Homo sapiens: one gene and its partners. The protein of the gene in region 3 interacts with the protein of the main gene of each other region in a biochemical or structural test. Each region holds a gene or a part of one and is shown on either strand. Other genes may lie near its edges.

Region 1 (7,000 bases), on a different chromosome or scaffold from region 3:
AATAAGGCATATACATTATGTCATTTCATCCTCACCACAACCCTAGAAGGTAGGTTCTAGTTTTAGCATCCCATTTTACAGATGGGAAAACTAAGTCTCGAGAGGTTAACTTGCCCAAAGTCACACAGTTATGTGATTATGTGGGACTGGAACCCAGCTCTGTCTGGCTCCAAAGCCCCTGACTTCCTCTCACTTCAGTGCCTTGTTTAGACACCTCAACTTCTCTTATCCTGACTGTCACTGGGTCCCTGCCCAGTGTCGTCAGTAGCCACATCTGCTTTGGTTGCTGTCCTATCGAATGCTGCACCAACCCCTCTGAAAACCATGGACTTACTCAACTTTAGCGCATCCCTTGCTCTTCATGGAAGCCTACTTCTGAGGCAAAATAGGCATGACTGTTACTCTTAGAGATGAGCCTCAGCACAGTTATGAGGGTACCTGTTATGTGGTAATATGGTCAGTGACAAGAGGAACTGAGCTTCGAAACCAGGTTGGCTGACTTGTTCCACGTGCCTGGGTGCTCTGCGATACTGTCTCACCACATCAGCACCAGGAAACTCTGTCCCCAGCTCAGTGGGGGCAGAGCCTCAGGGAAACACTGGTCCATGTGACTAAGATACTATTGATGCGCTTTCTACATCCGTACTTGGAGGCTCCTTTAGGACTGAAGAATCAGAGCTCAGGTCCTCATCACCCACACTGGGCCACACACGAGCAATTTCTGAGAAAACATCAGGGAGATGGCAATGGGTAGCTACAATAGAACAAACATAACAGACAGCAGCCCTGCCAAAGCAGGTACATTCAGCAACTGGCCTCTCTGAATCACAGCCCATTTAATCTGGAATGGTCTCAACTGACAGCAGGCAGATGGGGGAGGGGCTCTGCTTCATAGAGCCCACAGCCCAGCAGGACTGGGCAGACAGTAAATAATCACACAAACACACAACTGTGTGAAAGCTGTAAAGAGGTGGCACAAGGAGCTAAGAGGGTCCTCAAGGTGGGTGGTGCTGTCCCCGTCTTACAGAAGTGGAAACTGGGGGTCAGGGTGCAGCACCTCTCCCACGGTCTCTCCATGCATGGGCCAAAAAGCAAAGATTGAAACCCAGACCTGTGCTGGTTCCACCCCAGCCTGCTGCCATCCTGGACAACCACACTGTGGAAATCTCAAGAAAGAATCAATTCATTGAATAGCATTTCTTTTTTGTGAATTTATATAAAACACCCCAAATAGAAGAGTTATTCAGCCACAGGCAGCTTGGAGTTTGTGGTGATACACTGGTCACGTCAGAAGCCTCATTCTGGGGGTAGTTTCTATGACAAAACTGTGTTCTTTCACATGGACTGTGAGCCATATGACTGAGTTCATAACAGTGTTGGGGGTTACAACGTTACGATGGCCTGTCACATGTACACATCAATCACAAGCCACATTTTGGTCCCAGGAATGTTAAAATGTTGGGTGTGGCAGGAGAATCCCTTGAACCCGGGAGGCGGAGGTTGCAGTGAGCTGAGATCGCGCCACTGCACTCCAGTCTGGTGATAGAGCAAGACTCCATCTCAAAAATAAAAAATAAAATGTTGGGTGTGGGGAGCCAGGCCTCTCACAACTGAACTATTGTGTCAGTCCATTCTCTGCTGAAATCAGCCTGTCTGGGGCCAGCAGCCCCAGAGCCTCAGCAACCCCCTGCTGCCTAGTTGTCCAGACAGGCAGTACCAAGACCACCAAGGAAAAGCCCAGAATGGACTCTGTTCTTATCTTCAAGAGATGCCTGAGGACCTGCCCAGCTCCAAGAATCCTTAAAGTCCTGCCTGAGGTGGTCCCACTCCAACCTCCATGAGGGAAAGGCTGTGTCTGTCTCAGTTACTGCCGAATCTCTAATACCCACTCAGGGCCAGGTAGAAAAGATATCTGTGGAATGAATGAATCAATGAAGCAAGCCTCAGGCCCAGGCTCTCAAGCAAACAAGCTTCTCTACCCCAGGGTGCCACACCATTCCTCTCTCTGTTGTCCAGCCAAGGGCTTTTCTGAGGCTAGGTCAGGTGCCCCACAGCCCCCCAAGTTTCCCTATCTGGGCATGGATCTCTTTGCATTACAAATGCCTAGTCTCTGTCTCACCTACTACCGTGGACCCCTTGAGGGTAAGGACCTCACCCACCTTGTTCCTGTTCTACCTCCAGCCGCTGGCACAGTGGCTGGAAGAGGAGAACTTATTGGGAAATACATTATACAAATGAAGTTCTTGAATTCCTATTTAGTAACCTAGGTGCCATCCTGGATACTCAGTAGTCAGAGGAGGAATCTGCCCTGGCCCTGCTTTTTAAAGAAGCTGTAGTCAGGAGGGAGATAACCAGATGACTGCAATCTGAGTCTTGGGTGTTGAGTTGGAAGCAGCCACAGCTGCACTTGTGAGCTGAAGGAGGGAGGGAAGACCTCACTGAATGGATGGCTTCATGGTGAGGTCAACTTAGGAAGACAGGCAGGCATCAGCCAGGACAGTGGGGGAAGGTACTCGAGGCAGGAAGCACAGCACATGCAAAGGCAGGGAGGCATGACAACACAAGGTCTGTTTTTAAGCAGGACGCTGACATGATCAGATGTGGGTGTCAGACAGACAGCCCTGGAGCTGCATGCAGTGTAGACTGCAGGGGAGAGAGCACCCAAAGGCAGGGAGGCCAATTAGGATTGTGTGGGTAAGAAACCTGGCCCTGGGTTAGACAAATCTGTTACTGGGCCCAGCTCCACCACTTGGTAGCACTGTGCCCCTGGACAAGTGGCTTCATCCCTTACCTTTGTTTGCTCATCTGTGAAATGAGGATAGTCATAGCCCCTGCCTCAAAGAGCTACCGGGATCAGTGAGGCAGACACAAACATTGGTTGTCCCAGTGTTTGAGGAACAAGTCCATCCAAACAGCCAAGGTGGCCCTGGTGCCAACTTCTCAGCCTGGTCCAGAAAAGCAGCCCCAGGCAAGGCCTGGACTTCCCAAGAAAGTCACCCTGGGGCAGTGCTGTCCACCCAGCCCTTGACTTCTCCCTCTTGTCTAGGGCTTTCCCAGTTGTAGGGCTCCAGAGCACACTAGGCACTGCCGGAAATGCAGCAGCCAACTCAGAAGCTGGACTCTGAAATGGCTTCTGCAGACTCTTCCCCGCCTCTGCTCTGTTGGCCAAGGCTCCTGGCACAGAGGCCTCAGTGCACAGACTTTGGGGGAATCTCAAAATGGTTCCCAAATAACGCACTGTGAAAAAGTAACAGCAGTGTCCTTGTCCCCCGGAAAAGGCAACCAGCTCCCCCACTCCCTAACCACATCCCCCTCTACCCTATGATCTCATGGTGTGACCACAACCCGCCTCCTCCATGAACTCTTCCTGGAGCCAGCAATTCACCAATGGCAGGAGCACAAGAGCCCAAAGCATCAGGCAGATTCGAACCCCCAGTGCTACTCCTCCAGGCAAATCTGTCTTACCCTGCTTCTCTGACTCATGGCTCCCATCACCCATGACAGGTAGTAGCAATGCACAATGGCTAGCTGCATGGGAAGGCTAAATGGGTGGGTGATGGAGGGCTGGATGGATGGATAAATGGTTCATTCAATGGTCTTATGAGAGCTGAACTAGAAGGGTTTGGGAATTGACTCCAGACTCCCCAGGTGCCTTCTGGTGGGGAATCATTCATAGCATCCTCAGCCAGGAGGGGAGGGCAGCTGGAGATCTGGATATGCCCTCCCTGGCCTCCGGGCTGATGGTGAATCATCCAGGACAAACAATGCACAGTCCTTTCACCAGGTTCTCCAAGGTGAGGGTGTCACTGCTCATCCCAGATGCCCATTTTGGGGTCTTACCACTTGCGTGATCAAGCAGCTCTTTCCAACATCCAACAAAACACACCCTTGTGCTGACCTGAAAGCTATTTCTACTTATTCAGTCAACAGTGAGTAACATGCAAGCTGCATCTCAGCCATTAAACAAACAAGCACCTTTTATTCATACTGGTTGAAGAGACAATCTTGATGCAAGGCAGGGTTTGGACCTAGCAGTTGACAGCTAAATCCCAGTTGTGATATTTACTTCCAAGTGATCTTGAACAAGCGACCTAACCTTTCTAGACTTGGGTTTCCTCTACTGCCAAATGCAGATATAATACCTTTCTCTTAGGTAATGGGATCATATAGTTTGTTGCTCAGTCAGGACAATATTGAGAGTGAAAAGGGGGTGCTATTAATAACTACATAAGACCGCAACCAGCATGGCGAAACCCTGTCTCTACTAAAAATACAAAAATTAGCCAGGTGTGGTGACAGGCACCTGTAATCCTAGCTGCTCAGGAGGTTGAGGCAGGAGAACTGCTTGAAAGCGGGAGGCAGAGGTTGCAGTGAGCTGAGATGGTGCCATTGCACTCCAGCCTGGGTGACAAGAGCGAAACTCCATCTCAAAATAATAATAATAATAATAATAATTACGTAAGACAACAGACCTCAACTGGGGCCAACCAGGATGTATGGTCCCCTACTCATAGAGCTATTAAGAGCCAATGAGATAGAGTACAGCTGGGCACCCAAATTCACAACAAACGACAGCCATTATTAGCAATACTACTGGTCACCTGATCAGCTGGGCCTTTTCCTTCATCTGGATCCCTCCCACATCTTGGATTACCAACTGGTTTGGATACTTCCCTACCAGCACACCATACATTTCAACAGCTTAGTAGGAACACCTGCTAGCTAATGTTGATGTTTTCATCTGTCTTCTGTCCTGATGATAGTTTCACAAACTTGATTCATGCTCAGGTCCACCAGACTCACTCAAGCACAGCTCAGGCTTCTAGCTTCCCAGAACCCCGACGTCAGGGGCCAGCTGGCAGTTCCAGATTCCCTGACTGCCTTGGCAGAGGCCCGCTTCTCAGGCCTCCTGCAGTGCTGGGATGCCTCTTATGGCGTGGACCCATTATTGGCCTTCATCTGTGATCACAGACCAATGGGCAGTGCTGACCAGAGGACGGGTGGTGAGGGGGTGGTTCTGTAAGTCCTCCAGGCAGGACTACAACCTGGACTGATGATGAATCAACTCCTGAGATCCGGATTTAATTTGGAGGCTTCCCTGGGATCTGCAGGCCTAATGACGGCAAGAGCACTCCTGTCGTCGTCCTGCCTAGAGGGTCAGAGAACAACCTCTTTTGGGTTTCCAGTCACTTTGGCACTTTGGTTTCTCTTTATTCACAGTATGGTATCTTTGGGGGTTATTTTGGGATCTGTTAGTGGCTCTACTACTTATTAATTTGTGATTTGGGCAAATGACTCACGATCCTCAAATCTCAATAGTTTCCTCAACTGCAAATAGGGATAAATGTCAGCTTTGCTGTTAGCCTTAAAAGTATCTTTGTGGGCATCAGAAAATTGCTACAATATAAATATAAAAAACATAAAGACTATGAATGTGAGTTGTGTCCCCTAGAGTAGCACAGTGCTCAAGTGGGGCCACCATGCATGGCGGCCCTCAAATAACAGGCCGCCTTCCGAGGGCTGTTGGGAAGATTAAGTGAGATAATGTATATAAAGTGCTTGAGCCATAGTGACAATTTATTGTTGTTATTCTTTTAATTGCTGGAACTTTTCTCATTTCTAACCTTTGGGGTGAACTCAAAAGAGGATCCCAGGCCGGCAGCTTCTGCTGCAGGGCAGAACACACAGCTCCATCTGATGAAAATGACAGCTCTTCCCACAAAGTGGCCCCTTGCTTGGGCTGTGGCACCACAGTGGTGAGAGGGATGCGGACACATGATGTGTGGCCCCACCACATCAGGCCAAGCGGGGACATTCAGAGGCAGCCCACCGGAGACTGGGTGGGACCCAAGCCCTGGAGAGGCTGCCTCCCAGTGTACAAAGGCTGTCACGTGGCACAGTCACACCAGCCTCACTTGTGGGGAGGGAAAACCCATGCGTGATGGAAACTCCTCACAATACAATGTGGAAAAGCAATTTTAAGAATCGTTTTTATTTTAATTCTGAAGCCAAGGAAAACAGTTGGATTTGCTTTTCTTTGTTGGACACAGGAAAAAAGTGAGGAGCATCACTTTGATTGGAGTTGAGTTCTTCTTCAGTCCTAAGATGGCTGGAATGCCGGGGTGGGGGTGGGGGGTGTTACTTCTCTTGAGATACAATGAGTTGAATAAATATCAAGAGAGCAAAAGTAAACAAACTTATTACTGCCCATTAAGAGCCGCCAAACTGGCAAAAAACTGCTGGGGGGAGGGGAGGAATTGGGGTTGGAGTCTTGGACTCCAAGGAAAATAAATGACTCTGAGGCTCAAAGAGAAGCCCAAGGAGCATGGCCCTTGGTATCAGGTTGACCCAAGTCCTAGGCTCAGTCACCTTTGGCTGTTATCTGCCGTGTGTTCCTGGGCAAATCACTGAGCCTGTTTGGGTTGCAATGTCTCCGTTGATAAAACAGGGGTGAATAACAACCCACCGGATTACCTGGGACAATGTATGTCAGGCGCCCAGCACAGTGCCCTGTTCCTTCCCTTCCTTCCTGTAACCCAATCAGTTCTGAGTCACCCCCACTAAGCCTAGGCCCCACAGAGGTGTAACAGTAGGACTCAGAATCAATGTAGTTACAAGAGGTCCCACTGCTCGCAACATGACCTCAAAGTCAGCTACCCCTACACCTTTTTGAGCTTCAGTTTCCTCAGCCTAGAAATGGGCATAACACTAGTAAGTCACTCTGAGTGTTGGAATGATTAGATGAGAGAATGTTGATGTGAAGGGTCTGGAAGCCCTAAAGCCCTGTGCAAGCATTAGTCAAGGAGATGGTGTGAGTGCTTGGCACACTGCCTGGCCCACACCCAGCATCCTCACTGTTGTTGGTTTTGTTTCAGCTTTGTTGTTCTTGCTATCGTATTGCTAACACATTATTCCAATCTCCCGCTTCTGATGCACTTCCATGCTGCTCACCTAGTGTGCAAGGTGGGTTGGATCATCCCATTTCACAGAAAAGACTCAG
Region 2 (7,180 bases), on a different chromosome or scaffold from region 3:
CCCCAAATTTGTTTCCAAAATACACCAGTACAAAGCAGTCTCAGTTTGTATGCAGTATACCTGCCTGAAGACCTGGTTAGTCAAAACTCATATTCTTTCCCCATAGAAATAAATTTGAAGTAAGGAAGATGGCAAAGCCTGCATATGGATCTATAACTACCTAATTCAAGAAGAAGCACTCAATGGAAAAATCAGAAGTAATGCTGAGAAAATGCAAGTAAATTCACTATACTCCAGAGCATGGCAGTTACCTGGGTATAAGCCAAATTGCTTCTAAAATCACTGGCATTCAGTAGCATTTTTAGCACTAGGACTGACACCACCACTTACCAAATCCTTGGATGACATTATTATGAGAGATTAAAGATTTACAATTATAAAAACAGTAACTGTTAAAATAGCATAAAAATTAGTAAACTCACTGGCAGAAGTTCCAATTAATGTAAAATTCTGCAAAGTTCAGAAATATTGGTGTTTCTGTTTACCAGCAAATGTGATGGTGCCATGTGGCAATAATGTAAACAGATTTTACATTGACCTGAGGTTATAATTTTCAAATTTTGAGCATAATGATGTTTACTGACATTTTAATAATATGCTCAGTTTAAATAATTTGGGTTTGCACAGACACATACCTCAATTCGCCATTTCATTGGCTTGTATAGATACAACACACCTCTCAAGAATTTTAAGATCTAGGACAACGCTGCCATTCAGTTTTTCGTTCTGCAAACCGTTGGTGAGCACCTGCCAGAATTCTGCTGGGTGCATAATAGATACTTAATACATATCCAATCTAGAATTTTCACTCAAATCACATTTCACCAGATATCTACAAATAAAGATTTCCAGATCTCCACTGAAGACCTACTTATTTTAAATAATCTGGCATATGAAAAGAGGGTGATTTAAGTTATATTTTGATATTTGCAAGCATTTGCTATTTTTACTACAGATCTGACCAATAGAGGCTCTATAGATATAATATCAAAAAGAGTAAACAATGTAGAGTAGAAATACAAAAAAATTAACCTAGAAGATCTCCAAATCCATCCAGATAATCACACCACAACCTCTGGAAATCAATTATCCCATCAATTCTTTTCTGTATCACAGTCCGTCCACCTCCTCTGTAATCCATGTCACACATTACCTAAAATAAGCACAGAGAAGACCAAAATAATACACTATTATTTTCATTATTTGATAATATAACACTCATGCTTCATCCTTAGGCTTAGAAAAAGAGACGGTACTGCCACTGAGTTTTCAATGCAATCATATGCCATTAATTTATTCAGATGTTTTTTATATTTCTAGAAATAATACTGTTTATTATAAAGCAAACCTGTAATTAACCTAAATAATACTGTTTATTATCAAACAAATTTGTAATTAACTTAATCACAGTCCTTATAACAATCATTTTTAAAAATATGTATTTGCAGCTTTTTTTTCCCCCCTTTTTTTTTGAGACAGAATCTCCCTCTGTCGCCCAGGCTGGAGTGCAGTGGCGCGATCCCGGCTCACTGCAAGCTCCGCCTCCCGGGTTCACGCCATTCTCCCGCCTCAGCCTCCCGAGTAGCTGGGACTACAGGCGCCCGCTAGCACCCCCGGCTTTTTTTTTTTTTTTTTTTTTCTTTTGTATTTTTGTATGTTTTAGTAGAGACGGGGTTTCGCTGTGTTAGCCAGGATGGTCTCGATCTCCTGACCTCGTGATCCTCCCGCCTCCGCCTCCCAGAGTGCTGAGATTACAGGCGTGAGCCACCGCGCCTGGCCGTATTTGCAGCATTTTAAAGTTATCCTCTTATTACTCAACTTTATAAATATTCTTCAGTTTGTATAACAGTATTGCTCTGATGTGGCAGAGCAATGTATTTCTCTATAAACTAAATTTTGAATTAAAACACTGGGGGTGGGGGGGTGTGTGTGCACGGCTAAATATTTCACGTGCTTGTCTTTGCTCTTTTCTCCCACAAACCTGGAAGGCCTGTTTTCAGACTGGCATTTTCAGAGAAAGGCATGATCTGTGCCCACTCAGCAGGTGCTCATAGACACATCTGTTGATGCTGTGTAAAATGCCCCTAAAAGGACCTCTGTAGGGCACCCATAGAAGCGATATAGGGAAGAAATCAGAGCAAAATTCTCCCTCAGAAACTTCCCGCATAGAGACAGAGAAAAGGCAGTGTGGAGGAAGTTAAGGAACCAGCACTTTCCCACAAAAGAGGTGATTATGCATCCCACTCTTCATAAAATTAGAAGCCTTCCTTTTCCACATCTGTTCAGATCCAGTTTTGAATCTGTAGGTGAAGTAACTTAGGTAATTTTAAAATTATTTCCCACCTAATTTCCAATTTTTTGACATCTTGTCAATAGATTCCAAATAAAATAATGGTAGTAACTCTAAGAAGAGAAACCGGTAGTATTTACTTAGAAAAAAAGTGACTTTATTATCCAATAAAGACTATCAATAAGGTATAAGTATCATAAACTTTCTTCTGCACAAAGAAGTGCCCAGGAAAATATATATATAATATATATAACTGTATGTGTGTGTGCGTGTGTATATATACACACACACATATATATTCCATCAATATGCATAGTCTCTAGTAGAAATTTCTACTAGATATCCTTGCAGAGAACTACTAAGAATAGACATAAGAGTAATTTATTTTATCAATTTCAGAATGAATCAGCTTTTCAGTCTGCCTTGTACCCCACTGAAAGGTTTTTTAATTATTAATTTCTCATACAATCACATAAAATCATCTATCATCAGAAGAAATTATAACCATATACAGGAAGGGAAGTCAAAAGTATTTTTAGTAAGCTCCAAGGCAAAGCACACCATTATTTTCCAATATCCACAGGCTAATTAAAGCAAGCAAGTATTTATATTGCATAGTTCTGCCTGCTATAGTTCTGCCTGTTACGAGGATAATACAAGCTTTTGCATCACATGGATTTACTTTAAAGAGTATAACCATGGAAACTCAAATAGAAAAGTGAAAGACAGACTCTAGCTCTTTTATTAATTCATGTTTTGGGCATTAGAATTCTAAAAAACCAAAATTTTGAAAGTAGAACTTTACCTAATTTATTTAAAATTTTTTGAGGAAAAATTAAATATTAAAACAATTTAAATTTTAACATAAATTAAATTGGTTGGATGTTTATCTTAGCCCACATAATACGGGAAAACTTCAAATACGGGAAATACCTCAAATGGGTAGCTAGATCCTTCTGGGTGAATTATGTATAAACCACTCGGTGTTTTGGTGACAGAGCCAATGGTATCCTTAATATCAGTGCAATCTAAACCTAGAAAAGCAAAATTATTTAATTGGGATATTTTCAAATGTACATTTAAGGCAATCATTTTACTATAGAGAATTGATAGTGCTATTATCATAATTTTCATTATTATATTATTTTAACTTCTTCAAAATGAAAAATGGTCACAATTTTAGAAATAAAAAGAAAATATAAGGGATTAAAGAATTTATGCTGCAATAAGCCTTCACTTATAATGTCACTGTTAGTGATTAGTTTCCTATACTATTTAAAAGTTTCATTTGGGATCAACACTTATTAAACATATTTTATAATTACACATTCTCTTTACCAATAAATAATGCCATTTCAGAAATTTAGGTTTATCTTAGAGAATGTAATGTGTAAAGGAAATCTACATGAATAGGGAGGAGAAAACCAAAAGGAATAAGTAGATTAACCACTACAGACACATATTTCACTATTCTATTCCCAACTTCAGAGACTGATGTGTTTGGGACCACTAATACAAGTAGCCAAAGGAAGAAAGGGGAAAATCACTTTCTTCCCCAAGAAATTATGCCTGATGTTAGAGCCTACTCTGTTAACAACAGTTAGAATTATAGCACCCCATAATCACCTTCTCCAAAGCACTCATCTCCCCAGGATTGTAAACACGTGTATGTGGATATGGATATTACATTTTCTGGAAGATACTCTACTCTGTAGCATCTTTTATAAGTGAAATAAATTCAACCCTTAGAGCGTCCATTATCCAAATGCCCATCTTAACATCCTAGTTCTACTCCTAACACTTTACTTCATAGTGTTATCCTAACTATTTACGTAGTAAGGTATTACATAAAGCCTTTACCATAGTGCCCAGCACACCCAAATAATGAAGAAAATGCCATCTACAAAAAGTTAGCTATAAAAAGTCACTTGTTTTCCCCTTCGTCTCTGGGAGACATAGATTTGTTGTTGCCTGTATCCTTAATTGTTAAGAGATATTCTTATAATGACTTTATGCTCAGAGACATGAAAGAAGTTCACGCTGAAGGACCGATCTGGGTTGGAGTGTCTGCTATGTCATTACCTTTCAAATTAATGTGAACAGATTATTTCGATTTTTCTGGGCTGGATATTTCTTATCTGATGATGATGATCATAGCAAGCAAGCCCTTATATTGTTCTGCCTGTGATTCGGGCATTTTTTTTATTTCCTTGTGATAAACATTTGATTCGGGCAATATTTTAAGAGACTTTCCTGTATTTATTCACTTAATCCTCACATCAACTGTAAGAGGTAGGTACTATCAGTTTACTGATGAGAAAACATATCAAGAGAGCAGCAAGCAAGAAATTTGAAACCAAGGAGTCTGACATCAGAGTCCATGCTCCTGACTACCACATTATGCCTGCTTTGGGGCAGTTATGAGATATAATAAAATAATTTTAATAACAAAATAATGTGAGAAAGTGCCTGTCTTCCTACCTATCACATAGAAGATTTTTAGGCACTGTTTATTGTCTTCTTTTTCGAAGAAGGACATAAAGATCATGTTCTAGGCCCTCAATAATATTTATTTGCTTTAAACATTTGGGGATAAATTCATATTTATAAGATTTATAGGGTATTTTTCTTAGAAGTCCAAACCTCTAGGAATTAATATGCTGTATTTTAGTATAAAAAGTGCTAACTTTCAGTTTATTCTTGTCTTACATTTCTTTTTCTTTTCAAATTTTATGCCCCAATTTGAAACATTTCAAACATGTCAAAAACATTTTTTACAGGTGGGAGGAACTTTGAAACTTTCTTTTCTTCTATCTGAAGATGAATTATTAATAAGATATAAACTGGGAGTCCAGAACAAAGCTATAGAAAGCTATGTTATTTTCAACAGCTTCAGGATATCTTTATACAGCCATGGCTTTCACATGGTTGAAAAAGTTTCCCATTTTAAGAAAGTACACGTTGTCTATGGTGAAATTTGCTTAATAGCAGGTATTAGCCCTCCAGTCTGTTAGAGAACGGTGAGCTGTAGTTTTTAAATAAAACTTTTAAATGGATCGACCTGTCCAGGAAAATTTTAAGCAATAAAAGACAAACATGAAAAGGCTGAAATACCAAAGTTCTCACCATGTGACTGAACAGGTCTGTGAGGAAAAGGATCCAGCTGTTTTCTAAAAACTTCTGTAGTCAAAAGGAGAACTCTATTCATGAGCTCGTTAACCTAAACACATGCATACACATTTAAGTAAATTTATATTTGAAGAAATTGCCATCTCTAAGCCTCTCATAAACCCAGCTCTGAAATACGTAATGGTGCCCATTTTTCTAGATTGATTTCTTACTGCTTTAACAAAGAATAAAGGCAAAGCTAAATAGCAATCATTAAATTTCGTAGTATCTACCTCCTTAACGTTGATTTTATCTGCCCCGATTTCTGCATTTGGCTGCTCTTGCACATCTGCCCTTCATACCTTGTCCAAACCATTGCTGTAGTTTCTTACCTCCTCCTTTGGCTCTTCCTCAAGTCATTGGCCACACAAGTTAATCAGATTGTGGCATTTCCTTGCTTAAACACTACAGTGGCTCCTTGGTGTGGTATGACTTCGTTCTTGCCTATTCCTATAGTCAGTTTTCCTTAAATACTCAACCTCACCAGCCACTCCACCCTGTACCAACACCAAGAAGTTTCCCCAGAATGGAATGTCCTCTTCGCCTTACCCAACCTTTATGATTTTTAAAACATTTATTCATCCTTCATGACTGTTAACAGACTTTCTCCTCTGGGAAGCTTTTTGTATCTGAGAGTTCTCTTTTGTGCCATTCTAGCAACCACATTTTTGTCAACACATTTTAATGCTCCACTAGACCATACCCCTTGAATTAAGTTCGATTTTTTTACTGCTTTTTGTTTGCCTAAAGTTTACTATGGTGCCTCTAACATGGTAGGCGCTAAATAGATGTCTGAACATGAATGCATTTTAAAAAAAGATTATACCTCCAGCTAACTATACATCAACGTGTACATGCAATAACAACACAATACTAAAACATCTATACCTGATTAGATAAATAATCCAAGGAAGCTTGTTGCTCATCCATCATATTCCTTAGTAGTTTTTTGGTACTTCTTGTGTAGGAAACAATAGAATTTTGCAAATTTCCTTAACCATAATAAAAAGTGGCTGTTAAATATTATATTGTTACAGAAAACAATTACAGTGAAAAATAGTGAATTTTACCTGATTTTGGATATGTATGTTAACTCAATACTATCTCAATTTATCTTAATACTCAGAATTACATATTTTAGTTAGTATATCTTTTGTTTAACTCAGGATTAACCCCAGAAATGATTGTCTCAATACTTCTTAATGAAACTATGCTTCCTACTAATATAGATTACCCAGAATAATTAATCTGTTATCATTAAGAGACAGTGTTCTGATTATAAATTCTCACTTTATAAGATGAGATATATAGAGGCAGGAGTTATAGGATTCATCAATTCTTACTGTAAAAGAAAGTTAGTGGTGACAGTTTTATACCAGGCAAGTTAATTTTAAAAAGTACATCTTTGTTTTAATTTTTCTATTAATACTATATTTACACAATTAAATTGCTAGCACATACATATACATACACATAATAAATGTTAGTCAAAGGTTTTGGTTATTTGGTTTCTGACTAAACATTTACTATACATTTTCCTTTTAAAAATGTTTTTATCTTAAGAGAAAATTTCTTATAGCGAAGTTGCGATAACAGTACAAATAACTTTTTCCTAATGCCTTTGAGACCATGTTGCCATGATGTACCGTCATGCTATTTCAGTGTATATTTCTTACACCAAAGACATTTCTAATAACATACCACCAAAATTAGGAAATAAAC
Region 3 (4,979 bases):
TGGAGTGAGCGGGGGTCTGAGCGGGGCTCAGCCAGTGGGAGACTCACCCTCAGAGGGAAGGAGGACAACAGGCCCTCCCAGGCCTGCGCACACTCAGCGGCATCGCCAGCATCATGGACAGGAGAGGCGGGTGGAGGGAGGGGCCTGGGGAGGCCACAGGGCCCATGTAGAGAAATTTGGTTTGAGGTGGAGACTTCAGGAAAGCCCCAGCTCCTCACCCTCCTCTCATTCTTTCACCCAGGACCCTCCATGGGTTCCAGCCCCCCACCCACCGGTCCCATCTCCACACCTGGTGAGTCCCTGAGGCCTCTGGCTCGAAGGGAGCGCAGCGACCCCCAGGGCAGCTTTGAGTGTCCAGGAGGATCCCATTCCCTTCAGGGACTCAATCAAGGGCTTCTGTCCAGGGAGCTGGGCAGAGCCAGAGGAGGGGCCACAGGGTCCCCAGGGCTCTGAGGCTGGGCTGGTGAGGGGTGGGGGGTCAAGGCAGAGAGAAATGTTGGGGCCCAGCCTGGGGGAGGAGCAGCCGGGCTGATGTGGGGAGCAGGGCAGCCCCAGCCCTCACCTCCCCGTCCTGACCCAGCAGGCCCTGAGGACCAGCCCCTCACCCCCACTGGGTCGGATCCCCAAAGTGGTGAGTGAGGGGCTCTGAGTGGGAGGTGGGCGGGGTCCCGGGGAGGCAGGGGTGGGTTCTGTCCTAGGTTCAGGCTCCTCTGGAGGTGGTGATGTAGACAGGCTCCTCCCCTGCCTGGGCCTCAGTTTCTCCAAGTGTAAAGGAGAGAGGCCTGCAGGTGGGAAAGTTCCTTTCAGCTCTCACTCCCAGCTGTGACCTCCTGGGAGAGGAGGCCCCTCAGGGAAGACTCCAAGACTCGATTCCGCGGGGGCCTGTCCCGTCCCACCTGCAGCAGAGACGGTGACCTGGGGCAGGGGAGGGGAGCAGAGTCGTGGTTCAGGACGGTAAGGCTCTTTCCCTGCAGCTCCGGGGCTCGGCTCTGGTGCAGGAACAAGGGCTGCAGGTCAGACTCCCAGGCTCCCTTCCCAGCTCTGCCGCTTCCTGGCTGGGGGCCCGGGGCAGGCGATTCCCCTCTCTGAGCGTCAGTTTTTCATCTGTAGAGTGGGTGGGGTGGATGTTTGTGTGCTGCACGACTGTTGTGGGGGTTGGAGGTGGTGAACAGAAGGTCCAGCAGTCACCTGCACACAGTAGGCGCTCATTTCAATGACATCACCCCCATCCCTGACATCATCGTGCTCAAGGTCTGGGAAGGCACCTGGGGGTTGTGATCGGCATCTTGGTGGCCGTCGTCCTACTGCTCCTCCTCCTCCTCCTCCTCTTCCTCATCCTCCGACATCGACGTCAGGGCAAACACTGGACATCGAGTGAGTAGGGAAGGGGAAACCCTGTGGGCCGACCGAGGGTGGGCTCAGGGCACAGCCAAAGAGAATCCAAACCACTGGGCAAATGCAGCTTTGAGAAACTGTTCCAGCATTTCTCACCAGGTGAATGGAGAAAGCACTTAACGTCAGTCCCATCTACAAATATAAAGTGTCCTCCGGGCTCAGTCCCATCTACAAATGTAAAGTGTCCTTCGGACTCTGTCCATCTCATGAGGCATTTGGAACATGGAGGCAGGAGTGTTTTTAGGTTTCCTTCCTTACCTTCGAGCTGTGTGTGCAGGGCAGGGGGCTCCAATGTTCCCAGGGCTGAGGCTCTGTCCTTCTTCCCCCAGCCCAGAGAAAGGCTGATTTCCAACATCCTGCAGGGGCTGTGGGGCCAGAGCCCACAGACAGAGGCCTGCAGTGGAGGTAATTCTGCCCGAAGACCCCAGACTCCCACCTGCTCGTGGCCCATACACTGCCCCTAAAGCTCCCATTCCTCCCCCAGGTCCAGCCCAGCTGCCGACGCCCAGGAAGAAAACCTCTGTGAGTGAGAGGAAGAGGTGACCAGCCAGGAGGGAGATAGGGGCCCCGAAGTTTCCGTAGCAATGGGGAAAGGGGCACCGGCTGGAAAGGGTCTGGGGCTCAGGGTGAGATCATCTCACCCCACACTGTGGGACCTCAGGGACATTGCAGCCCCTCCCTGCATCTCAGTAGCCCCATCTGGGAGCAGGGCAGGGGCTGGCAGGACTCAGAGGTCCCAGGGAACCTTCCCAAGAGACGAACCCCTTGCTCTGCCCCAGCAGATGCTGCCGTGAAGGACACACAGCCTGAAGATGGGGTGGAGATGGACACTCGGGTGAGACCCCGCCCCTGTCCCAGGCACCAAAGGCCTCCTGGTGCCAGATCTAATCCAGCAGGACTTCTCTGTCCTCCTTCCCCCGGCTCTCAGCATCGTCACGGTGGACCCCTCCTTGTCCAGCACGCTGCCTCCCGCCTGCTGTGACCTCACTCTCTCCTGCTGTCCTGGGACCTCGTGGGCCTCCTCCCGGGTCCCCTTCCTGCTCCTCATCCTCTGTTTGGCCGTCTGGTTGTTAGAGCGCTCCCCAGGCCTCTGGAGGATGAGGAATAAATGAACCACCCCGGTCCCCTGGGCTCCCCTTCATTCATTCAACCAGTGAGTGTTCCCAGGGAGCTCACTGTGGATCAGGCTCCCCATGGGAGCTGCAGACACAGCAGGGAGCAAAGCCGCCCCCGCCTCCTGAGCTCACCTCATGGTGGGAGACAAAATGCAAATAAATGCGCCATGTCCAGGAGTGCAACGTGCTTAAAGGAACATACACCAGGGAAAGGGCAGAGAGTGTGGGGCAGTGGGGCCAGTCTGAATGGAAGGGGAGGGCTGTCTGCTCAGCTGTCATCTGAGAAGCCTGGACAGAGTGGGGCACACGATCCTCTAATGGACGAGCCCCTGCAGGCAGAGGAAACAGCCGTGCAAAGGCCCCGAGGCAGCAGCGAGCTCTTGCGGGAAGGCCCATGAGGCTGCAGCCAAATGGGCAAGGTCAAAGTGAGGAGCAGAGGCCAGAACCACAGGAAGGGAGCGGCCAGACCCTCCACGGCCTTAGGGCGTCCCTGAGATTCCATCGGGAAAGGGATGTAATCGGATCACCCCGGGAACAGTGAGGAAAATTGACTCCAGGAGGTCAGGGGGACTCAAGGACACCCCCCACCACTGTCTCTCTCCAGCAGAGCCCACATGATGAAGACCCCCAGGCAGTGACATATGCCCCGGTGAAACACTCCAGACCTAGGAGAGAAATGGCCTCTCCTCCCTCCCCACTGTCCGGGGAATTCCTGGACACAAAGGACAGACAGGCAGAAGAGGACAGACAGATGGACACTGAGAGAGTCCTTTCCTCTCCAGGCCCCCAGGCCTCCCCCACCCCCACCACGTTCCTTACCTCTCACTCTCCCCCGCTGCAGGCTGCTGCATCTGAAGCCCCCCAGGATGTGACCTACGCCCAGCTGCACAGCTTGACCCTCAGACGGAAGGCAACTGAGCCTCCTCCATCCCAGGAAAGGGAACCTCCAGCTGAGCCCAGCATCTACGCCACCCTGGCCATCCACTAGCCCGGAGGGTACGCAGACTCCACACTCAGTAGAAGGAGACTCAGGACTGCTGAAGGCACGGGAGCTGCCCCCAGTGGACACCAATGAACCCCAGTCAGCCTGGACCCCTAACAAAGACCATGAGGAGATGCTGGGAACTTTGGGACTCACTTGATTCTGCAGTCGAAATAACTAATATCCCTACATTTTTTAATTAAAGCAACAGACTTCTCAATAATCAATGAGTTAACCGAGAAAACTAAAATCAGAAGTAAGAATGTGCTTTAAACTGAATCACAATATAAATATTACACATCACACAATGAAATTGAAAAAGTACAAACCACAAATGAAAAAAGTAGAAACGAAAAAAAAAAACTAGGAAATGAATGACGTTGGCTTTCGTATAAGGAATTTAGAAAAAGAATAACCAATTATTCCAAATGAAGGTGTAAGAAAGGGAATAAGAAGAAGAAGAGTTGCTCATGAGGAAAAACCAAAACTTGAAAATTCAACAAAGCCAATGAAGCTCATTCTTGAAAATATTAATTACAGTCATAAATCCTAACTACATTGAGCAAGAGAAAGAAAGAGCAGGCACGCATTTCCATATGGGAGTGAGCCAGCAGACAGCCCAGCAGATCCTACACACATTTTCACAAACTAACCCCAGAACAGGCTGCAAACCTATACCAATATACTAGAAAATGCAGATTAAATGGATGAAATATTCAAAACTGGAGTTTACATAATGAACGTAAGAGTAATCAGAGAATCTGACTCATTTTAAATGTGTGTGTATGTGTGTGTATATATATGTGTGTGTGTGTGTGTGTGTGTGTGTGTGAAAAACATTGACTGTAATAAAAATGTTCCCATCGTATCAACTCCAGTTCAGGAAGTTTCACTGGTGATTTCTTACAAATATTGACGCACTAATGAAACACACAAACACACCCAGAGCATCACAAATGTTTCTTGAGAATAGAAAAAGAGGCAATGTGCCCGGGTGCGGTGGCTCACGCCTGTAATCTCAACACCTAGGGAGGCAGAGGCCACAGATTACTTGAGGCCGGGAGTTCAAGACCAGCATGGCCAACAAGGCAAAACCCCATCTCTACTAAAAATACAAAAATTAGCTGGACATGGTGGCGCACGCTGCAATCCCAGCTACTTGGGAGGCAGAGGCAGGAGGATCACTTGAATGAACCCGGGAGGTGGAGGTTGAAGTGAGCAAAAACAAACCCCCTACAATTCAGCCTAGGATATGTTTATTAAATTTACATTTGTCTTTTTGCTTAAGATTGCTTTGGTATTCATCCTCTTTTTGGTTCCATATGAATTTTAGGATTTTTTTCTAATTCTGTGAAAAAAATGATGTTGATATTTTGATGGGAATTGCATTGAACCTAAATATTGCTTTGGGAAGTGTGATCATTTTCACAATATTGATTCTGCCAATCCATGAGCATGGGATATATTTCTATTTTGCTGTGTCATCT

What was found.
Region 1: the proteins of LILRB2 (region 3) and ANGPTL2 form a complex in vitro, tested with the Homo sapiens proteins (one study listed by IntAct).
Region 2: the proteins of LILRB2 (region 3) and ANGPTL5 form a complex in vitro, tested with the Homo sapiens proteins (one study listed by IntAct).

What each region holds. Positions count from the first base shown.
Region 1 is NC_000009.12:127,112,636-127,119,635, reverse strand, and holds part of ANGPTL2 (angiopoietin-related protein 2 precursor), read left to right. Parts: intron 1-7,000. UniProt on the Homo sapiens protein: Induces sprouting in endothelial cells through an autocrine and paracrine action.
Region 2 is NC_000011.10:101,899,398-101,906,577, forward strand, and holds part of ANGPTL5 (angiopoietin-related protein 5 precursor), read right to left. Parts: intron 6,451-7,180; coding exon 6,347-6,450; intron 5,511-6,346; coding exon 5,417-5,510; intron 3,325-5,416; coding exon 3,224-3,324; intron 1,154-3,223; coding exon 1,033-1,153; intron 1-1,032.
Region 3 is NC_000019.10:54,273,202-54,278,180, reverse strand, and holds the end of LILRB2 (leukocyte immunoglobulin-like receptor subfamily B member 2 isoform 2 precursor), read left to right. Parts: intron 1-241; coding exon 242-292; intron 293-580; coding exon of another isoform or gene 581-583; coding exon 584-631; coding exon of another isoform or gene 632-639; exon of another isoform or gene 640-645; intron 646-1,201; exon of another isoform or gene 1,202-1,251; coding exon 1,252-1,374; intron 1,375-1,724; coding exon 1,725-1,800; intron 1,801-1,879; coding exon 1,880-1,917; intron 1,918-2,177; coding exon 2,178-2,230; intron 2,231-3,351; coding exon 3,352-3,498; 3' UTR 3,499-4,369; downstream 4,370-4,979. UniProt on the Homo sapiens protein: Receptor for class I MHC antigens. Recognizes a broad spectrum of HLA-A, HLA-B, HLA-C, HLA-G and HLA-F alleles. Involved in the down-regulation of the immune response and the development of tolerance.